3 linked regions of the Homo sapiens genome follow. The protein of the gene in region 3 purifies or fractionates together with the protein of the main gene of each other region. This does not show direct contact. Each region holds a gene or a part of one and is shown on either strand. Other genes may lie near its edges.

Region 1 (3,500 bases), on a different chromosome or scaffold from region 3:
GCAGTGAGCCAAGATTGTGCCACTGCACTCCAGCCTGGGGGACAGAGCAAGACTGCATCTCAAAAAAAGAAAAAAAAAAAAGAAATCTCAGACACTTTTTGAGAACTAATTATTTGTTGCAAGAAAGTAGAATACCTGTTTGTAAATAGTTATTTTTAAATTATTCTATGTTTTATCTACAGAAGTGCAATTGCATAATTTATCTCGGTCGAAAAAACAAGAGACATAAATCATGTTAATAAAAAAGCTAATTAGAGCCAGCCTGGTCATTTTTTAATGGAGTGTGGTCTCTAGAACCATACAGACCTGGTTTTATTCCCAGCTCCTTGATTACTGTTTGTCCTTGCTGATCACTTAACTTCTATTTATTTATTTTTTAATTTAAAATAATTGAAACAGGGTCTTGCTGTGTTGCCTAGGCTGGTCTCAAACTCCTGGGCTGAATGGGTCCTTATGTCTTGACCTCCCAAAGTGTCGGGATTACATGCATGAGCCACGGTGCCTGGCCTAAATAGTACCATTGAGGGACCTTCTAATTATGAATTTAGCTGGTATTTCATATGGTGGAAGCACTATTTATTGTGTCCTAAATCAGAGGAGATACATGTTATATAAACTTGCCAGTCATTTGGGATACATAGGGCATGAAATATTTACTTGAAATCATTATTTTTGTATATATAACATGAAATACTTAGAATAAAGATATGATTCTTGATAGCTACCAGTTGAGTGCCTGCTCCATACCAGATGTTTCATAATTTGTTAAGTCTTAATACAGTGCCTGGCACATTGTGGATGCTCATTAAATATGTCTGTCTATTAGATAGTACTACATAGTAGTAATGCTATTGTAGATATAAATATATAATTCTCCTAATAGTGAAGATTGACACTCTGCAATTATACAGGCAGTAGAAAATAAATGAATAGTAGTTAGGATTGATGTAAGAGTATTGTCCTTATTTTACAACTGAGGAATTAGATTAAGTAACTTGTCAAAGGTTGTGCAGAATAAGTGGCAAGTCTGAGCTTCAAACCAGGGCCGATTCCTGAAACCTCGGCTCTTTTCACCATGCCATATGGTTTTCCGAAATTGGTACTGGATGACTTATTAAAGGAAAGCATATCTGAGAATGAAATGGCATGTGGTATAGCTCATACTAATGAGCTTATGCTTCCTTTGTGCAATATAAGGAAATATGTGGTGCTCCAGAGACATAAAATAATTCTTTAACTGTTTTACAAAGCCTGCAACAGCTACTCAGATATGAAATCTATCTCAATTGTTAAAATTCTTTCAATTTCATCTTAACAGTAAATGCAGTTGGAACTGAGGTCCAAAAGTGTGCTACCTTCAAAGTTGTATGATAAAGTATATTTAATATTAGACTGCAGGCATCTCTTCTTGATGGATTGTTGCTGCTGCGTAAATTTTACTAATCCTTTTGCTGGAAAGAAATACATAGCTTGTATTTCATTGGTTGCTAACTGGTATATGCACATGCTGTTTCCTTATTAGGTGTCTGCCAGTTTGTACACAGTGGATCACATAGTAAGTCGAGGGGGCTCCCCCATATGCAATAGCTTTTTTTAAATACTTTTATTTTATCAAAGAAAAACAGCTGAAGACATTAGTCTTATTAAGCAGTTAATATTTTACAGTAATGAAGAACCAGATGTCCATCCTGTCTTAAGCTTTCACACGTATACATTGATGCCTGTAATTGTTTTCTATTTTAAAAATCTATTAACACTATTACCATTTATTAAGCACCTTCTACATCCCAGGCACTATACTGGAAATAGCTTCCAAATTATTGAGGAATTTGGAGATAATGGCTGTTCTCTCCTTTTTTGATGAGAAAGCTGAGATTCTTAGACAGGTAAAATAACTTATGCACTCACCCAAAAGGTTTGATCTAGGTCTGGCTGATTGCAGTGTCCTTTCCCATACACCACACTGTTGCTCCTGTGTTTTCATTTAATGTAAGCCCAGTTTTAAAAAATCCCTTCATATAAACATTTTTATAGATGTATACCTTACTTTATCAGGCCCTTGTGTCACCATTTGCCATGTGAAGCTAGTCTGATACTTTTCCTGATAAGCCTGGTGATTCATATAAACAGGGATGTGGCAGAAGTATGCCATTGGTCCTAGGGTACTTGCTTACTCCTATCGCTGTTAAAGTTCTAGTTATATCACCGTTGTGTTTTTTGTTGTTGTTGTTTTTTAAGCAACAGGGTCTCACTTTGTACCCCAAGCTGGAGTACAGTGGTGTGATTATAGCTCACTGTACCCTCAAACTCCTGGGCTCAAACAATCCTCACACCTCAGCCTACTGAGTACTAGGACAACAAGTGTGCACTACCATACCCAGTTATTTTTGTGTGTGTGTTTGTTTTGGTACAGATGGGGTCTCGCTATATAGTCCAGGCTGGCCTCAAACTGTTGGCCTCAAGCAGTCCTCCCACCTCAGCTTCCCAAAGCCCTGGGATTACAGGTGTGAGCCACTGCACCTGGCCTGTCACTATTAGTTTTATTTTTAATTTTTCCCCCCCACAGATTGTAACCAAAGAAAATGGAAAAAGGGTGGTGGTTTTACCTACTAGGCTTTTTTCTTCGTATCACTTTTAAAATAAGGAACTAAAACCTCTATATGGCAAAGGTCTTGAGTATCAACTGGCTCCTATCATTTTTTTCTTTCAGTTATGAAACTTACTGGACGATTTGTAATAAACTTTACTAACTGCTTTCTTCCTAACCTGTTTTCCCCTGAGGAAAAAAAAATACTATTTTTTGGTAACCCTTCCTGTTCTTGAACTCCCTAGGAAGAGGAGTTGTACGCATGTCAGAGAGGTTGCAGGCTGTTTTCAATTTGTCAGTTTGTGGATGATGGAATTGACTTAAATCGAACTAAATTGGAATGTGAATCTGGTAAGATGCTATGCTAACGACATCAGCTGTATGTAACATTGTTTTCTTTGTGATAAGCTTTTGAAGTATTTTCTTTAGGAAATGGAAAACACACTGTTGAAACTAGTCATCTAACATATTGTAATTATTATGGATCTAAGAGTTTTCGTAGCTGCTGCTAGAAATTTCATGGGCTTTAAATTTCATCTGTTTGTTGAGACAGTGTTTATTTTCTGCTATGAATAGGACACCTTTGTTTAACCAAGCATTCTGTCAGACAAATGCAGTATAATTACCCTACTCACAATTCATTACTACCTTTTCACAGATAGTATAATTTTCCTAAACCTTTCAATCATAAGTTCATCGACTTATCTCCAAGTTTTTTACTGAATCAGGCCTTTGACTCAGTATTTAATAGCATATTATTCATTGGTCAGGCCATTAAAATAAGTAGCCAGAGGCTTTGTCATCTGTTAAACCACTTTTCTTTCTTTTTGCTGAAAGCAATATGTTTAACAAAAGAAACCTATAATCAGGACACAATTGACGTTTAACTTTTTAAATAACTATAATGGAATAT
Region 2 (3,736 bases), on a different chromosome or scaffold from region 3:
CCTTGTCCTCCCAAAGTATTGGGATTACAGGCCTGAGCCACCGTGCGCAACCTATGATTTTGGTGGTGGTGTTTTTTGTTTTTCTGTTTTTTAAATATTCTTGAGTATATTTGTAAGCTTTAGATGACCTGTTTTAAGTTATTTAATCTATCAACACCATTATATCTGTTATTACGGCCACTGTTTCTGTTGATTACATTTTTTTTCCTGCCCATAGGGACTTTTTTTTTCATGCATAGTAATTTCTTATTGCTTGACATTGTGAATTTTGCTTTCTTGGGTACCGAACATCACTGTGTTCTTTCAAAGTCTATTGGGCATTATTCTGGTCACAGAAAACTGAGGATCAGTTTGCTCCTCTGATACTAGCTTTTATCTACATATAACTATATACCTTGTGTTCAGTTGCCTTATTCAGGGGCTCATTTAGTTAACTACTAAAGTTATAGTGGTTGACTTCTGATGGTAACTCGCCAGCACCCTGGCATGCGTTCTGTCCACTGTGGGAAGGGGAACATGCAGATCTCCCAGCCCTGAGTGGTCCACAATCTAGTCTCTCCTTCCCTGGGTGGCTTCTTCTCAGGCACCTAGAGTCAGTCTCAGCAGACACTGGACATGTCTTCTGCAAGGATCCAGAGTCCTCCAGGCAGCTGCTTCTCCCAGTCTCTGCCCTGCACTTGGCCTCTGGGAGTTCCTGCCTGTGGTTCTCAACAGAGACTACAGAGCTCTACAGGGTCCTCTGCCCCTGCTGTAGCTGGAGGCTGTCCTTACGCAGTGAGCTGAGGCCACAGCTAGTCTCACTGCATGTGCTTGGCGGCGGGGACAGGAGTGATTCATTCATCAGGTAGAGGAGGAACCCTTTACTCTGGGAAAATCTGTGCCTGGGTTGGGGAAGGACAAATGAGCCCTGTGTGAATACTGACTACTCCCTGGAGCCCACAGTCTGGTGGAGCAGGTGACAGCAGGGACCTAAATAACTATCAGGAAGCATGAGGTCCCACCACTGTCACCTCCCCCACCTCCAGAGTGGCTGTGCTGGCTCCAGAGATGTCATCCCTCCATATTTGACTGACAGAGGGAGGCTGTGCAGTCCCAAGGCTCCAGGTCATGGTAGTTTGGCCAGGATAATATGGTTTGCTTAAAATCAACATTGAGGGTAATGATCGTACTAATCAGAGCATGTGTTTAAAGTTCTGTGTTTTAAGCACTTTCCATACATATTAACACTTTCAGTTCACACAACAACCTATGCAGGAACTGTGATTATCCTGGGCAGTTTTAAGGATGTGGGTGACTCAGAGAGGAAAGAAGAGGTTACTCGGGTTAATTTTTGACGAGAAATATTAGCAGGTTTTATGCTCAAACTTGGTGTAAAGCAAGGAGCCTGAATCACAGGTGGGTGAGTCACAAGACAGGGAAACCCCGCCAATGGCTCATGTCCGGGAGGAGGCAGGGTCCCTAGAATTCAATGGGACAAGAACTGAAATAAGCCAAACCCCTGACCTCCCTTCTTCTTGTTTTCCTTCTCTCTCTTAACCATGCCCATGGACACCCCCATGAGCCCATTTCTGTGGCCCAACACAGCTGTGCATCTCTGGCCACACGCCCATTCTCCCTCAATCAGAGAGGCCCACGGACGGCACAGCCTCGTCCTGCACAGCAGAAAGAGTGAATGGTGATGAATGGATCTATATTATTTCAACTCTCCTACATTTTGTAATCATATTACAATATTAATTCAGCAGTACCTCTCTTGTTTTTACTCCCCTCCCCCATTACACTGGATTCCTGTCTGTCTGGGATTCTGTCTGTGTGCACTCTTTCCTCTATGTCCACTACTGTCCCTGCCACCGATGGCATTTGTCACCTCTGCCTGGGCAGCCCCTCCAGACTCTTTGCAAGTTCATGGACTTTGGGGTTAATGATGGCTGTGCCTCAGCTCCTGTGAATGGAAACTGTGCTAAGGAAAGGAAGGGCCGTGCCATGTTCCCGATACTCCACGGCTCCTTGCATATGCGGTCGCCAGGCGCCTACATGCCTTCCATGAATGAATGAATGAGTAACGTGGATTCTAGGAAGCTGCACTAACCCAGACGTTGTGTCCTCAGCCTGCTCATAGAGTGTGTTAAACGTGAGAGGTGGGGAGTGTGGCAGGCAGGCTGAGGACAGAACAGAGGATCTGAATAGAGTACGGAGGATCACCCAAGTCCAGAGTCACCAAGGCCATTGTCAAGTTTTCCCCGGGGACATCCCTCATCAGATCCACCCATTAAAGATCATTGTTCACCCAGTGGAGAGTGGACTAGGTGGGTGCACTCAGGTGTGGCCTGGACAGCATTCGGGATGGGTCCTAGTGGTTAGGGTGAGGGTCAGGTTGCATTATCGTGAAGGAGGCAAGTGGCAGCTGAGGCAGATCTGAGGGAAATGATGATAACGCAGGCCGGTGATGCAATGGGTTTGGTAAGAAGAGGAAAGAGGTTTGTGGTGGATTCTAGTGTTTCTAATCTGAGACTTGGGTGAGGTCATTACCAAATAAGAAAGAGTAAATGGGCATAAATGGCTTTAAGAATTAGGAACCTGAATGTGCTATTGGAGACAGTATGGGCACGTCATTGCTCATAGACCTGCAGTACACAAAATGCTAAAAGATTTCAATCTGAATAGAGATGAAATGAAATGGAAACATGGATTTTTTTTTTTTTTTTTGAGACAGTTTCACTGTTGCTGCCCAGGCTGGAGTGCAATGGCGCAATCTCGGCTCACTGCAACCTCTGCCTCCTGGGTTCAAGCGATTCTCCTGCCTCAGCCTCCTGAACAGCTGGGATTACAGGCGCTTGCCACCACACCCAGCTAATTTTTGTATTTTTAGTAGAGACCGGGTTTCACCATGTTGGCCAGGCCAGTCTCAAACTACTGACCTCAGGAGATCCACCGCCTTGGCCTCCCAAAGTGCTGGGATTACAGGCATGAGCCACCTTGCCTGGCTGGGAACATGGATCTTAAGGAAAGAAGGAAGATCATCAGGAATAGAAATATGAATGCACATATAAAGAATGATTATTTCCTCTTAATTTCTTGAAAATATTCACTATCAAGTAATATAACACTTTGTAGGGTTTGTAACATATGAACATGCCTGAGACAACTATAGCAGAAAGAATGAGTAGTGGAGATGAATCAATCTGTATTATTTCAAGTCTCCTACATTTTATAATATTACCATATTAATTCTGCCATACAACTCAGTAATGAAAAGGAATGGAGTACTGATGCATATGAAAATATGACCGAATTTCAAAATAATTATGCTGAGTTAAAGAAACCAGACAGAAAAGCATATATAGTATCTGATTCCATCTATGATATTTATAGCCAGAAATGGTTTAATTAAAAAAGAAGAAGGATCTTAAATCAACGAGCTAAGTTTACAAATGTAGGAATTAGAAAAAGAATGAACCAAACCTAGAGTTAGCATTATAAAGGAAATAATTATTAGAAGAGAAATAAATAAAACAGAGAATAGAAAAACAGTAGAGGCCGGATGTGATGGCTCACGCCTATAATCCCAGCACTTTGCGAGGCCAAGACAGGAGGATTGCTTGAAGCCAGGAGTTTGAGACCAGCCTGGATATGGCAAAACCCTGTCTCTACAAAAAATATAAAAAGCAGCCTGGCCCGGGGGAGCACACCTGTGATCCCAGTTACTCGGGAGGCTGAGGTGGGAGGATCACTTGAG
Region 3 (3,736 bases):
TTGTATTGACTGATAGTGCAGGAGGATTGATTTGATTCAAGTTTGACCTTCTGGTGAAAATACTTCATAGGAATTTCTGTGTGCTTCTGACCGTACCATGTTGGGAGACACATTATGTGTAATTGTCTCTTTTTGTGACACTAGGAGTGACCAGTGTGGTCTGGATCATCTGCCTACTTTCTCTATTCTGACTTCCCACCAGCCTTTCATTTAATGCAGTGGTTCTCAGCCCTGTCTGCCTGTTAGAATCTGTGAAGTTGCTACACATTTCTGATGCCCAAGCCCTACTCCCTAGAATTAGTCCAGGATAAACCTGTGTTCAGTAATTTTTTTGAGCCTTAAATGATTCAAATGTACAGACAGGATTGAGAACCAATGACCTGATAAAATTGCAGCCATTGAGGATCTTTTTTCTAGAGATCCATTATTTGAGAAAAGGTTGTTAAATGGTGATGCTCTAGAATGCTTCCTGCAAATATTACAGAAATTCTTCCATAAAAAGTTTAATCAAGTCCTTTGTTCTTCCTTTAGTTTGTACAGGAAAAGTAGGATAAAGAGAAATGATAGATTCTTGTCAGTTTTCTGAATAATGAGTTGAGTATTCAACTTTCTACAAAGACCAGAGAATTTTGTTCATTATGAGTTTATATACTTTAGCACATATATGTGTATGAGTTTATATACTTTAGCGCTTTATGAATCAAAGGATTACATTTAATGTTATTACTATTACTATCATTTTAATGCTTAAATTATTTGAATTTTAGCCAATAGAAGTCGTTTTAAATTAACTTGTGACTTTTTTTGACAATATTTAATTGTTCAGTAATAGTATTTAATTGCTTCCTTGCCTTTAAGAATGACAATGTGTTTTAGACACATCTTATATGTTTGATAATTTATTTGTTCTGTGGCCTCCTTATCTTGTGCAGTTTCTGTCCTGAACCTGGGATCAGCCACTTAATAGTTTTGTTTTCTGTATCCCATTTGGGTGGTATTCCATTTGGTGCCTAGGACATGATTACAAAATGGAATGGCAGTTATTTATAGTAATAGTAAATTTCAAGATGCAGCAAATGGTAATTGGGAAAGATATTATGTAACAAAATCCTTAATTTTCCTATTATTAATCCTGCAGTGAATGTTACGTAAATCTTTGGTAACCGGTTTGTACTTTTTTCTCCCCAGTTAATGTCCATCAGTGTGTTGGCAGTTTCTGCTTGGATGAGGGACTACCTAAATAATGTTCTCACTTTAACTGCAGAAACGAGGTATACTTTATAATTATTGATTGAATTCTTTCTTGCTGATTTTAAGTAACTTTGCCCTCAGCTATTTATATGGTAGTGCTCTTCCTTGATCTTTTGGAAAAGTTTTTCCTGCCCATAGCAACCTTTGTCACAGACACTTGCATCCTCCAGAATTCTCCTTAAGGTGCGCCTCTGGTCCTAGCAGGGGATCAGGTGGCAGCATGTTTATACAGACATTTCTGGGTATGGTAATAGCAGTTGCCTGTCCTCCTGATTGTGCATCAGCCATGTCATAGGTGCGTGTAAAGAACCAGCATAGTTACTTTTCCCTAAGAAAATTACCGTCAGCTTCCTCTTACCTTCATATTCTTGGGTTAATGAAAACCATACACCACAATGATTTTTTTTTCTCAAATTTCAAGGGTTAATCTACTAACATCACAGGGGACAAATTACTTTTTACTCCATCATCTCTGAATGGAGATTGTATTATATGACATCTGAATTGTGGTAAGGATTAAATGAAAACCATTTTTTTCAAGTCCTTAACACAGGGAAAGTTAGCTTAATAATGGTTAATTTTTATCATTAATACTGGTTTCGGTTAATGAATTTTTCATCGTGTTCTAGCAAAAATCATTTCTACCTATTCCTTTCTTTAAATGTAGATTGATTTTCCTTTGCATAGCAGTCTTTTACATTTTGGGGGAGGATCAATTGTCAGGGAGAAGAAACGTAGTGCACATGGGATCAAAAATTAGAGAAGAGGAAGGAGATTCCTCCCAGCTGGGAAATAGCAAAGGCTCCCATGTGATTTACTTAGGCTAAGGCTTCGGAGATAATAATAGATGGACCTTTTATCAAGGTCCTGTATATTATATGTTAAATGAGTTGGGGTAGGAAAGCTACCACTTGTATTAAAAAAAACAAACACTGCAAAACCAAAAATAAAGCAACCGAGCAAATAAACATAAAAACAATAGCACAGTGATTTTGAAAATAACAATGCAGTCACTAGTTTTGAGGCATCATGATTGAAAGAATTATTAACACAAATCACAGTTGTGTCTTCTGCTATGTCTTGGGTGCATTTTGATTATATTTTCTTTCTAATACATTATTTTTCTTCTTTCAGGGTAGAGGAAGCAGTCATTTTGACTTACTTTCCTGTGGTTCATCCGGTCATGATTGCTGTTTGCTGTTTCCTTATCATTGTGGGGATGTTAGGATATTGTGGAACGGTGAAAAGAAATCTGTTGCTTCTTGCATGGGTATGATGTTATATTTTCTCTTTATTATAGTTAAAAAGATTAACCAGTAATATATTATTTTTTAATCAGTTCACAAGATTAGGGAGCAGTGATAGCAGTAACAACATCCTGTAAGAAGGGACGCTTTCGTTTCACAAGAGATTATTTGAATACACATATTTGCTGTACCGGATGAGGTATGGAAATATATATAAGCAATTTAATTATTTCACTCCAGCTACGTGTTGACATTTTCATTTGAAAGTATGAGTTCTTTCTAGTGTCCTTGTAGTTATTAGCACTCAAAAAGGCCCCTTGGGACTGGAACTGAGAAGCCATAAAGGAACTGTTTCTTTCTCTTCTATTTTTAAACAAATCCACCCTGTAAGCTCCTATGGAAATTCAGGTTGTGAGGTAGCAGACGTATGTAATGGTCCTGTCACTGCCTTTATATAGTTTAGAGAACATAAGCGAGTCTCAGTTTCTATAATCTTGGTTGTTGTTTTTTTAACTCTGAGAGTTGCACTAGGTACTTTTTAAATTAGTTTCACCATTCAAATTCTGTGACTAGTCTTTTAATTCAAAAGTAGGCAAACATTTTTAACATTAAAAAATTGAGTTGATTAAAATACTGTTTATATAGATATTTTTAGAAGAGCACTTAATGTGCAAAATATATACTAGTGGCACCAGGTAATGAGATTACTAACATATAGTTGCAGACATATAAGGCTGAAAAATTAATTCATTGAGTATACGCTTTTTTTATAGTAGGTCTCAGCCCTGGCTGTGTATTAATTTCATATAAAGAACTTAAACAATTTGAGTGGTGTGCTGGTAAGCTGGATCACTGGGCAGAAAAAAAGCTCAGATTTGTAGCATTTGGGGATTTCCGTGGGGTAAATTCTCCCAGCATGGTCAATTTTAAGTTACCAACATGAAATCACTGAATGTGGAACTGGGGACAGATGAGTACAAATTGGCTCAAGGAGCCAGCTCCCACACACTCGTGCTTGACTGGCTCCCATGCCAAGTCAATTAAAACAGAATCTTAGTGTGAAGTTGAACTAAAGCTTTGAATTTCACAGTATAACCTGTGTTAATGTATTACTTAGCTTCTTGGAGGGTAACTGTTCAGGTCGAATATTGAAAAACACAAAATGCTATAGAAAATAAAGCACACTCAGGCCGGGCAAGGTGGCTCACGCCTGTAATCCCAGCACTTTGGGAGGCCGA

What was found.
Region 1: the proteins of TSPAN12 (region 3) and TMEM59 purify together in Homo sapiens (co-immunoprecipitation; one study listed by IntAct). This does not show direct contact.
Region 2: the proteins of TSPAN12 (region 3) and TNFRSF10B purify together in Homo sapiens (co-immunoprecipitation; one study listed by IntAct). This does not show direct contact.

The regions. Positions count from the first base shown.
Region 1 is NC_000001.11:54,046,705-54,050,204, reverse strand, and holds part of TMEM59 (transmembrane protein 59 isoform 2 precursor), read left to right. Parts: intron 1-2,832; coding exon 2,833-2,938; intron 2,939-3,500.
Region 2 is NC_000008.11:23,062,317-23,066,052, reverse strand, and holds part of TNFRSF10B (tumor necrosis factor receptor superfamily member 10B isoform 1 precursor), read left to right. Parts: intron 1-3,736. UniProt on the Homo sapiens protein: Receptor for the cytotoxic ligand TNFSF10/TRAIL. The adapter molecule FADD recruits caspase-8 to the activated receptor.
Region 3 is NC_000007.14:120,837,562-120,841,297, reverse strand, and holds part of TSPAN12 (tetraspanin-12), read left to right. Parts: intron 1-1,188; coding exon 1,189-1,271; intron 1,272-2,385; coding exon 2,386-2,521; intron 2,522-3,736. UniProt on the Homo sapiens protein: Regulator of cell surface receptor signal transduction. Plays a central role in retinal vascularization by regulating norrin (NDP) signal transduction.